Regions from separate parts of the Homo sapiens genome. Here region 2 is linked to region 1. The links come from fine-mapping of genetic effects on gene expression. A gene starts in region 1. The other region holds a variant in brackets. All regions are shown on one strand. Distances are from middle to middle.

What was found. PIP is the estimated chance that this variant, and not a neighbour inherited with it, causes the effect. A credible set is the group of variants that fine-mapping cannot tell apart.
Region 2: its variant is the best candidate, but not a certain one, in a credible set for the expression of SQSTM1 in whole blood (TOPMed, PIP 0.53).

The regions. Positions count from the first base shown.
Region 1 is chr5:179,818,721-179,824,086 of GRCh38, forward strand. It overlaps SQSTM1 (sequestosome 1), which reads left to right and starts at 2,185. Exons shown (of 8, transcript NM_003900.5): 1 at 2,185-2,421; 2 at 4,238-4,333; 3 at 5,138-5,366. The coding sequence starts at 2,217. RefSeq lists enhancers at 1-264, 1-1,166, 220-519, 920-1,079, 1,687-2,396 and 2 more and silencers at 510-689, 1,990-2,239, 2,350-2,609, 2,620-2,799.
Region 2 is chr5:179,745,967-179,751,332 of GRCh38, forward strand. The region is part of intron 1 of MAML1 (mastermind like transcriptional coactivator 1); the gene reads left to right. Among named protein-coding and RNA genes, the nearest start is that of MAML1, 16 kb to the left of the region's middle. RefSeq lists an enhancer at 3,782-4,282. The variant A/C (reference allele first, on the strand shown) is at 2,576.

The sequences.
Region 1 (5,366 bases):
CCACGGGGCATCGCCTGGGAGGGCAGCCCAAATCCTTCCACTTCAGCCCCATTTGAAAGATGAGGAAATGAGAGGCTGGTCCATAGTGGGTCTCGCGGCTCAGGTGCCGAGCCTTCCCTGGGCATGCACGCCGGGCCCTGGAGGGTGGGAAGGGGCCAGTGGACGCGGGGAGCCTGCGGGGTGGGACTGCATCGGGAAAGGGGAAGGAGTCAGAGGCGAGAAGGGGGAGAGTGTCTGTCTGGCTCCAGCCGCTGCACGCTCTTCCTGCTCAGGGGACTCACGGTGACCCCGGAGCCACTCCCCAGCCCAGCCTCCAGGTAAGAGGTCACTGAGATGGGTGGCAGCAGGGGCCGGGGATCCCCCTATTACGACAGCGGTCATGGGACGCTGACTCACTGCCGGCCAGACCACCTGACCTCCGCGGCGGGAGGAGAGGGCCCTGCCAGGGGGTTCCCGCCGCGCCTTGTTTACCTCCGGGAGGCCTCGGCCTCGCGTGGGGGCAGGGCGGCCGCTGGGGCCGCAAGGCGTGCGGGGAAGGGCCAGAGCCGGGTGTCCACCCCAGCTTCCCAAAGACTCCCTCTTCTGTGCTTCCTTCTCCCCTCCCCGCCCCCCCCCCAGTCTCTTCACATGCCCCTAGCCCCCGCGGAAACTTCCCGCGATCCCAAACGGGCCAAATGGCGAGAAAGCAAAGGAGCTCCTTCTTGGGGGTGAGTGGGGCGCCTTGAGCGCTTCCTCAAAGCTATGTTCCCAGAGCCACAGGCCTTCCTTGTGTCCCTCACCCTGCTCAGACCGGGCCATAGCCGGGGGCTGGGGCAGGAAAGCCGGCCCTCGGCGGGGGCCACGTGGCTCTCAGGCGCCTGGGCTGCTGAGTCACGCTTGGCCAGCACCTGTCTGTAGGCCACAGCCTCTGCCAGCACGCCCCTCTGTGTCCCCTGCCCCTGTCTGCAAGGCAGTGGCTCCAGCAGGCCCTGGGGCATTTTCCACTCTCCACCGCCGGATGCAGGGAGAGGCCTGAACCCTCTCCACAGGGCTGCTCTGGGCAGGGTGGAAGCCTTGCCCACTTCGGAGCCCTCCGGGAAGGATCATTCACACCTGTGGACCAGCCCCTGCTGTGCGCACACCCACACATCACCTTCGCACCTGACTGGCCCCATCCAGCCACTCTTGCCTCCCTCTGGGTTTCCTCCCCTGGGAGGTTTCTCCAGCTCCTGCAAGCCCTGGGCTGAAATGGCATGAGTTGGACCCAGCAGGTTCTGACCTCCTACTCACAGGACCTTGCCTGGGAGGCTCCAGAGGGTGACCACTCGTCCTGCCCCTCTCCTTGCCCCAGTTCTGGCGGACAGGTTACTCTGGTGGCATAAAGCAGTGTTTCTTCCTTCCTAGCTGAGGAGGCTGTTGGCTGACCCCCTTGGCTGCCCACAAGGCCAACGGGCCTGAGCCCCCACAGGGCCATGGGCATTACCTGCTGAATTGAGGAGCCCATAAGGAGTCACTTGGACCACAGTGAACACTTGGCGACCACTGACACTCAGGAGACCTTAGCTGGTCCTCCAGCACCTCTCAACTCCACTCCTACTAAACTGGGAACTTCTCTGGTGCTCAGGCCAGAGTCGGGGTCCGTCACCGAGTATGCTATGCGCTGCCCATCACCGAGGATGCCATGCGCTGTAAGAGGGCTGCCACCGCGGCAGGCTGACCATGGCAGGGTCGGAACAGCAACCTGAGAGCCAGCTTGTTCTGGCCAGCAGTGCCCACTGGGCGACCTAGCAGCCTCCTGATATGGGGGCTGTGTCCCCCTCTCCCTGCACTGGGTACCCCCAACTGAGGATATTGCTGAGTCATGGCCAGGCCCAAGCCTGGGAGGGGCGAGGGGCTGGACCCCCGCCAGTACCCTGATCCCAGGTGCAGAGGCTGGAGCCCAGGCCTGTATGAGTGCCAGGGCCGGTTTCCTGGGGTCCTTGGTGCACCGGGGCAATGAAGAGAGGGGTCAGCAATGAGGGGGCCGGGAGACCTGGAGCGAGGGGTAGCGGGGAAGGGGAGAGTAGTGAAGGGGCCTCTGCAGGGCGGCTCTCGCGCCGCGACGACGGTGGCGGGGGCGGGGAGGGCGCGAGAGACTCCGCCCCTCTCGAGGCGGGGCGGGGCCTCCGCGTTCGCTACAAAAGCCGCGCGGCGGCTGCGACCGGGACGGCCCGTTTTCCGCCAGCTCGCCGCTCGCTATGGCGTCGCTCACCGTGAAGGCCTACCTTCTGGGCAAGGAGGACGCGGCGCGCGAGATTCGCCGCTTCAGCTTCTGCTGCAGCCCCGAGCCTGAGGCGGAAGCCGAGGCTGCGGCGGGTCCGGGACCCTGCGAGCGGCTGCTGAGCCGGGTGGCCGCCCTGTTCCCCGCGCTGCGGCCTGGCGGCTTCCAGGCGCACTACCGCGGTGAGCGGGCCGGGGAGCGGCGGGGGCGGTGACGCAGGCCGGACACGGCCTCCTGCCGCGGGGTGGCTGCCCCCTCCCTTCTCGGCGACGCCTGGCGGGCCGTGAGGGGGTCTGCGCTGGCTGCTCCCTGGATGGCGGTGGCCTGCATGGGTCCCCAGTTCGGCCATGGGAGCCGGCCTGGTGACTGGAGTGGTGACCAAGGCCGGGACCCGCTGCTCAGCGTCGGCCCCCTGGGGCGGTGGAGCCCTGCCGGCCGGGGGCTCGAGCCTGGGGGCGTCAGACGCCCCGCTCCACCCCCCGCGCTGTTGGGGATTTTGGCAAGGACGCGCCGGGGCGAACGCTCTGGCTCTCCGCGGGCACTGGGTGGTCAGGCGGGCACTCGGGTTACACTGACACCTTGCTGCGCCAGGTGGTGGGTTCAGATAATGCCCTGGAGGAGCCGGGCGAGCGCCGGCGAGGGGAGGGAGTGACGCGGGTAAACAAGCGCGGGGGTGCGGGGGACTCGCGAGCGCCGCGACAGCGCCTGGGAGAAGGGCACGGATCGCCGGCGGAACGCTCCGAGCCAGGTCGAGTACAGATGTTTTCCCATTGGCAAGTGGACGAGAACGTTCTTCAGAAGTGTTGGTGTTGGCACAGAAGCCCTGTTTCCTGCTGCGCTGGTGTGACCAGTGGCTGCTGGGGGTGGGGTTAGGGAGGTGGTTGTGGCCAGGAGGGCGGGAGGTGGCCAAGGCCGGCCCCTGGGAGGGTGCAGTGCTAGGACCTCCCTCTGGAGCGCTGCCAGCATACCAGGCCCTCTCCTATTCTTAAAAAAAAAAAAATTGTGATGTTATTGAGCTGTAACTGAAATAAGGGTTCACCCATTTAGTGTACAAGTCAGTGGTTTTCACTATTTTCATAGGTTTGTGGACCATATTCAGTGTGAGAGCTTTTCATCACCTTATAAACGCCATACATACCTTTTATCACCCTCTTATCCACATGCCCCCAGCAACCTCCTTTCTGTATCTATTCATCTTGCAATCCTGGACATTTCATGTAAATAGAATCAGACAATGTAGTCTTGCAAGTGGTTTCTTTCACTTAGTGTAATGTGTTCAGTGTTGTGGCACATATCAGAACTAGTTTTTTTTGGAGGAATAATATTCTGTTGTGTGGACAGGCCATGTTTTGTTTACCTGTTCATTAGTTGACAGACATTTGGGTTGTTTGCATCTTTGGGTGCCTCACCTGTGCCCTCGGTGGATGGCGTGGTTTGGTCTGCACAGCTGTGCTTTAAAGCCATTTCAGCTCATATGTATCTGTCACAAATGGAGACTACATACAAATACGTGTCTTTCAGCTTTGTTAGGGAAGGAAGCAGGCAGATGCCCTTGTCTTCTCCTTTACTCCCAAGCCACTAGAAGTCTAAGGCCTTTGTGGGGCTGGGCCCCTCAGGAGCAGGTCACAGGCAGGGATCTCCCACAGTTGAAGACGGACATGGGCCTGGTCGGATGGGGAATGAGGTGGCACGTTTCTGAAAAGGCAGCTGGCCCAAGGCTAAATAAGTGCAGCAGCCAAAGCTGCTGCCCCTGTGCACAGGCCCTCCGCCCCCTGCATGTGGCTGTGGTCCAGGGCCCAGGTCGGAGCACTCACCTTCCAGGAGGTGCCAGAGCAAGGGGGTAGTCTTGCCTCTCACTCCTGCCCTCTGTGGCTCAAGTAGGTGTGTTTGTTTATAGCCCTGTGAGTGTCCCTTTCATACTTGCCTCAGCCCATTCCAGCAGCTTATGTCCAGCTGAGAACCCCTGGGTGCTCACGTGCTGTCTTTTAAACAATCTAGATGAGGACGGGGACTTGGTTGCCTTTTCCAGTGACGAGGAATTGACAATGGCCATGTCCTACGTGAAGGATGACATCTTCCGAATCTACATTAAAGGTAAGGGGCTGCTCTGGGGGCTGCCTGAAGCCAGCTCAGCTTGTACTCAGTTCCCTGCTGAGTAAAAAACAGGGCTCGATGTTCCACCAATGAAGGGGTCAGCAATTTGAGGGCTGTTTAAGACAGAGACATAGGCCAGGTGTGGCTCACGCCTGTAATTCCAGCACTTTGGGAGGCCGAGGCGGGCAGGTCACCTGAGGTCAGGAGTTTAAGAACAGCCTGGCCAACATGGTGAAACCTTGTCGCTACTAAAAATACAAAAATTAGCCGGGTGTGGTGGTACATGCTTCTAGTCCCAGCTACTCAGGAGGCTGAGACGAGAATCACTTAAACCTGGAGAGCGGAGGTTGCCATGAGCCGAAATCACATGACTGTACTCCAGCCTAGGCGACAAAAAAAAAAAAAAAAAAAAAAAAAAAAAAAAAAAGACATTTTAAGTGCTGTGCCTGACCTGAGAAAGAGGAGTCCATGTTCACTCTAGGGATGGGGTCTGGTGCCGTGGTGCTTGGGTTAGGGATGGGGTCTGGTGCCGTGGCGCTTGGGTGAAGGGCAAGGCCAAAGCTGTGCAGACAGGGCTCCTTGCTGCTGCTCTGCTGCCTGGGCCAAACAGACACAGGGACTGGGAACCTCCTAGCAGGTTCTTGGTGGCTCTGCTGCCCTCACCTAAGTGGCTGAATTTTGTGTGGATTCCATGCTGGAGAGCAGGGCCGGGGGCCTTGCTGGCAGTGACAGCCCCACAGTGACGACAGAGGGGGAGGACTTTAGGGGGTCCCACCCTAGCGGCTCTCTTTACCCTTCCTGTAGAGAAAAAAGAGTGCCGGCGGGACCACCGCCCACCGTGTGCTCAGGAGGCGCCCCGCAACATGGTGCACCCCAATGTGATCTGCGATGGCTGCAATGGGCCTGTGGTAGGAACCCGCTACAAGTGCAGCGTCTGCCCAGACTACGACTTGTGTAGCGTCTGCGAGGGAAAGGGCTTGCACCGGGGGCACACCAAGCTCGCATTCCCCAGCCCCTTCGGGCACCTGTCTGA
Region 2 (5,366 bases), 73 kb before region 1:
GAGGTTTCGATGAGCTGAGATAGCGCCATTCCATTCCAGCCTGGGTGACAGAGCAAAACTCTGCCTCAAAAAAAAAAAACAAAACCAAAAAAAATGGCTTGGCACGGTGGCTCACACCTGTAATCCCAGCACTCTGGGAGGCCGAGGCAGGTGCGGATCACCTGAGGTCAGGAGTTCGAGACTAACCTGGCCCACATGGCGAAACCCCGTCTCTACTAAAAATGCAAAAATTAGCCGGGTGTGGTGGCTGTTGCCTGTAATCCCAGCAACTTGGGAGGCTGAGGCAGGAGAATCGCTTGAACCTGGGAGGCAGAGATTGCAGTGAGCGGAGATTGTGCCACTGCACTGCAGCCTGGCGGCAGAGCGAGACTCCGTCTCAAAAAAAAAGGGAATAAGTTTAGTTATAGCAATGTTTTGTTTTTTTTGAGACAGTTTCGCTCTTGTTGCCCAGGCTGGAGTGCAGTGGCGTGATCTTGGCTCACCGCAACCTCTGCCTCCCAGGGTTCAAGTGATTCTCCCACCTCAGCCTCCCGAGTAGCTGGGATTACAGGCATACGCCACCACACCCGGCTAATTTTGTATTTTTAGTAGAGACAGGGTTTCTCCACGTTGGTCAGGCTGGTCTTGAACTCCCGACCTCAGGTAATTGGTCCACCTCGGCCTCCCAAAGTGCTGGGATTACAGGCGTGAGCCACCACACCTAGCCAGCAATGTTACTCAATATTTTGAAACCTGAATTGTGTGCCAAAAAATCACAGTTACATATAATCAAAAATTAACTTATCAGTTGACAACTTGGTTAGTCTTTTAATTTCATTGAAAACTAAGAATTAGAAACCATCCGACTTGCAAAAGGATTTATCTAGTCATTAGTCTTCACTCTCAGTGAGAAATATAACAAAAAGCCTTTAGCAAGTCTTATAAATTGGTTATTGATTATGCCTGCTATTCTTTCAGTTAAGAGGTACCTTGTTTCTTTCTTTCTTTGTTATTTCCCAGCCGCCTACCCCTGAAACAGAGTCTCAGGCTGGGTTTATTTTTATTTTTGGTAGAGACGAAGTCTTGCTCTGTCTCCCAACCTGGAGTGCAGTGGCTATTCATAGGTGCTATCATGGTGCACTACAGCCTTCAACTCCTGGGCTTAGCTCCCTAGTAGCTGGGATTACAGATGTGTGCCAATGCACCTGGCTTTCACACTTTTAATTAGTGTGTTTTTGCTGTTCTGTATTAGACTATGAGCAACTTAAGAGCAAGACCAAGAGTCTGGCATTGTACCTGCTGTATTTGGCAGTCATCAAGCATCTGTTGACTGTGTGTTAATGGTATTATAGAAGGTGCTCTGAAGTGAGAGTCAGAAGCTGTATGGCTTTGGGCTAGGACCAGTTGGGAAGTGGAGTTGGTAGAGGTAAGGCAGGAGGTCCTGATTTGCACATCCATGTTTAGGGCTTCATTGATCACACTAGGAGGGAGCGACCTGAATGTCCATCACAGATGAATGGATAAAGAAAATGTGGCATATCCATACAACAGAATATTATTCAGCCTTAAAAAGGAAGGAAATAGGCTGGGCACGGTGGCTCATGCCTGTAATCCCAGCACTTCGGGAGGCCGAGGCGGGCGGATCACGAGGTCAGGAGATCGAGACCATCTTGGCTAACACGGTGAAACCCCGTCTCTACTAAAAATACAAAAAATTAGCCAGGTGAGGTGGTGGGCACCTGTAGTCCCAGCTACTTGGGAGGCTGAGGCAGGAGAATGGCGTGAACCCCGGGAGGCGGAGCCTGCAGTGAGCCGAGATTGTCCCACTGCACTCCAGCCTGGGCGACAGCGAGACTCCATCTCAAAAAAAAAAAAAAAAAAAAAGAAGGAAATACTGTTCTGTGCTGCAACATGATCTTTGAGGACATTATGCTAAGTGAAATAAGACAGTCACAAAAAATAAATATTGCATGATTCTACTTATTTGAGATGTCTAAAATAAACTCATAGAAACAGAAAGTAGAATGGTAGTTGTCATGGGCTCGGGGAAGAGATAGGGGAGTTGTTCATGGATATAACTAGATGAGTAAGTTCTACTTACACAACAATGTGCATTTGGTTAACACTATTGCATACTTTATTTACTAATTTTTTTGACATGGAGCCTCACTCTGTCGCCCAGGCTGGAGTGCAGTGGTGATATCTTGGCTCACTGCAGCCTCTACCTCCTGGATTCAAGCGATCCTTGTGTCTCAGCCTCCTGAGTAGCTGGGACTACAGGTGCCTGCCACCACGCCTGGCTAATTTTGTATTTTTAGTAGAGATGGGATTTTGCCATGTTGGCCAGGCTGGACTCGAACTCCTGACCTCAAGTGATCCACCCACCTCAGCCTCTCAAAGTGCTGGGATTACAGCCATGAGCCACTGCACCCAGCCGACTACTGTATACTTTAAAAAGTTAAGATGGTAAATTTTATGTTCTGTGCCTTTGACCACAGTTTTTGAAAAGTGAGACAGAAACTGTGATTTTATAAACCACATGCCCTAAAAATGTTCTAACAATATTATAAGAGTTGTTTAATAAAGGCATATCAAT[A/C]AAATTTAAGGACCAGTGTAAGTGGTCCGACATCCGAATAATAGGAATTACAGGAAGAGAGAAAACAAGGTGGGAAGTGACCTATAAAATAGTTGATAACAGAAGCACATGAGCCAACAGATTAAAACTGTGTACTTGTGCCTAGCACTAGGGAAGAAAATAGACCTGCACCAGGCATGGAATTTCTGAACATTGAGTTGATAGAAAAGATTTACAAGCTTCTGGATGGGAGGGTACCAGGTCACATATCAAGAATCAGAATGTCTTTGGACTTCATGGCAGCAGCATAGGAAGCAAAAAGAGAATTGGAACAATGTCTTCAAAATTCTGAAGGAAAGTGATTACTAACCTGGACTTCTGTACCTAGCCTAACTATACAACAAGAATAAGTGAGAAAAAGGTGTTTTTGTTTTTTTTTTTTTTGTTTTTTGTTTGTTTGTTTGAGATGGAGTCTCACTCTGTCGCCCGGGCTGGAATTCAGTGGCATGATCTTGGCTCACTGCAACCTCCACCTCCTGGGTTTGAGCAATTCCCCTGTCTAGGCCTCCTGAGTAGCTGGGATTACAGGCGCCTGCCACCACACCTGGCTAGTTGTTGTTGTTTGAGATGGAGTTTTGCTCTTGTTGCCCAGGCTGGGGTGCAATGGCGCGATCTCTGCTCACTGCAACCTCCGCCTCTGGGTTCAAGCGATTCTCCTGCCTCAGCCTCCCGAGTAGCTGAGATTACAGGCATGCGCCACCACGCCTGGATAATGTTGTGTTTTTAGTAGAGACAGGATTTCTCCACGTTGGTCAGGCTGGTCTTGAACTCCCAACCTCAAGTGATCCGCTTGCCTCGGCCTCCCAAAGTACTGGGATTACAGACGTGAGCCACCGCACCCAGCAAATTTTTGTATTTTTAGTACAGAAGGGGTTTCACCATGTTGGCCAGGCTGGTCTTGAACTCCTGACCTCTAGTGATCCACTCATCTCGGCTTCCCAAAGTGGTGGGATTACAGGCCTGAGCCACTGTGCCTGGCCGAAAAAGGTTTAAAAAATTTAAATGTCATACTCCTTCTCAAGAAGCTACTGGAAGATGTGTTCCACCAAATTGAAAGACTAAATCATGAAAGAGTAAGACACAGATACAGCAAACAGGAGCCCAACACAGTAGACATGGCCTGGGAGGCCCACAGAGGATGGCGAGAAGTGATCCTAGGGTGGCGGCTCTGCACCAGACGTGGAGGGCAACTGAGCCATACTGCAGCAGTGCAACCCACCGAGAGGTGAAGGCAGGCCATGGTGAGCTTAGAAACAGGAAGTACAGGGCAGCCCCCTTGCTCTGACTGTATTTCCACTGCAGGTCCAGCGCCTGGTCCCCACCTTGGCCCTGCCTGGTGCCTGACTATGCTGAGCCCTGTGTTTCCCAAAACTCCAAGATCTTGCTCACGACTTCCTCAGGAGGGGCTTTGTCAGCTCCCGGAGAAGCAGAAGTCAGATCACAACCTGGAGATTGATGCGCTCACCTCCTGGAGCCTCCATCCAGCAGGGGCAGTGCTGCCCTCTCCTTGCACTGCCAGTGTGCACCTGCTCTCCGCTTTAATATTAATCATCTTTGATATTCATTTACATGTAGTTATAATAGCTGCCCAAATAGTGAAATAGTAAATAAAATTACCAAATGATCTTCTGTGGATGTGGCCATGTGCTCTTATCTCCTGCGGATTCTTGCTTAGACTTCACATGCTTACTCTGTGAGCCCTTTCCTGAGCACCTTATTTGGAATCATAAGTCCCACCAACTCTCTCTTTGAGTGATTTGTTTTCTCGGGAGTACGTCTCAGCTAGAATATAGGCTCTAGGAGAGCCTGTGGTTTTGTTTGCTTGTTTCTCTGCTGTATCCCTAGGGCCCAGAGAGTGGCTGGCTCAGTCAGCTCTCAATAGATTTTTTTGTTTTTGTTTTAAGACAGGGTCTCTTGACTCCCAGGCAGGAGTACAGTGGCCCGATCTAGGCTCACTGCAACTTCTGCTTCCCGGGCTCAAGCTATTCTCCTGCTTCAGTGTCCTTAGTAGCTGGGATTACAGGTATGAGCCACCATGTCCGGCTAATTATTGTATTTTTTGTAGAGGTGGGGTCTTGCCGTGTTCCCCAGGCTGGTCTCGAACTCCTGAGTGCAAAGCAATCCGCTTGCCTGGGACTCCCAAAGTGCTGGGATTACAGGCCTGACGGCTCTCAGTAGATTCTTATTGGATAAATTGAATGAGATGATGAGGAAGAGTTTGCTAGAAAGAGAAAGGTGGGCAAGGATGACGATTCCCAGCAAGGAGGCAGCTGGCACAGAGCCACAGTGCCTGCTGTATGGAGCCCTTTGTGCAGTAAGGAGCTGCTGCTGGGCCCAGGCGGCAGGTCCCGGGGGCTTCCCTTATCTTCAGTGCTGTCCTGAAAACTTAGTTGTTCAAGGCTACTTTTTTTTAAATCAGAATCTCGCTCTGTCACCAGGCTGGAGTGCAGTGGCACGATCTTGGCTCACTGCAACCTCTGCCTCCTGGGTTCAAGCGATTCTCCTGTCTCAGCCTCCCGAGTAGCTGGGACTACAGGCGCACACCACGATGCGTAGCTAATTTTTTATTTTTAGTAGAGACAGGGTTTCACCATATTGGTCAGGCTGGTCTCAAACTCCTGACCTCAGGTGATCCACCCGCCTCGGCCTCCTAAAGTGCTGGGATTACAGGCGTGAGCCACCGTGCCCAGCTGGCTACTTTCTATAGTTATACTGTCCATGAGGGTAGCCATCAGCCAGGTCAGGTTCTTAA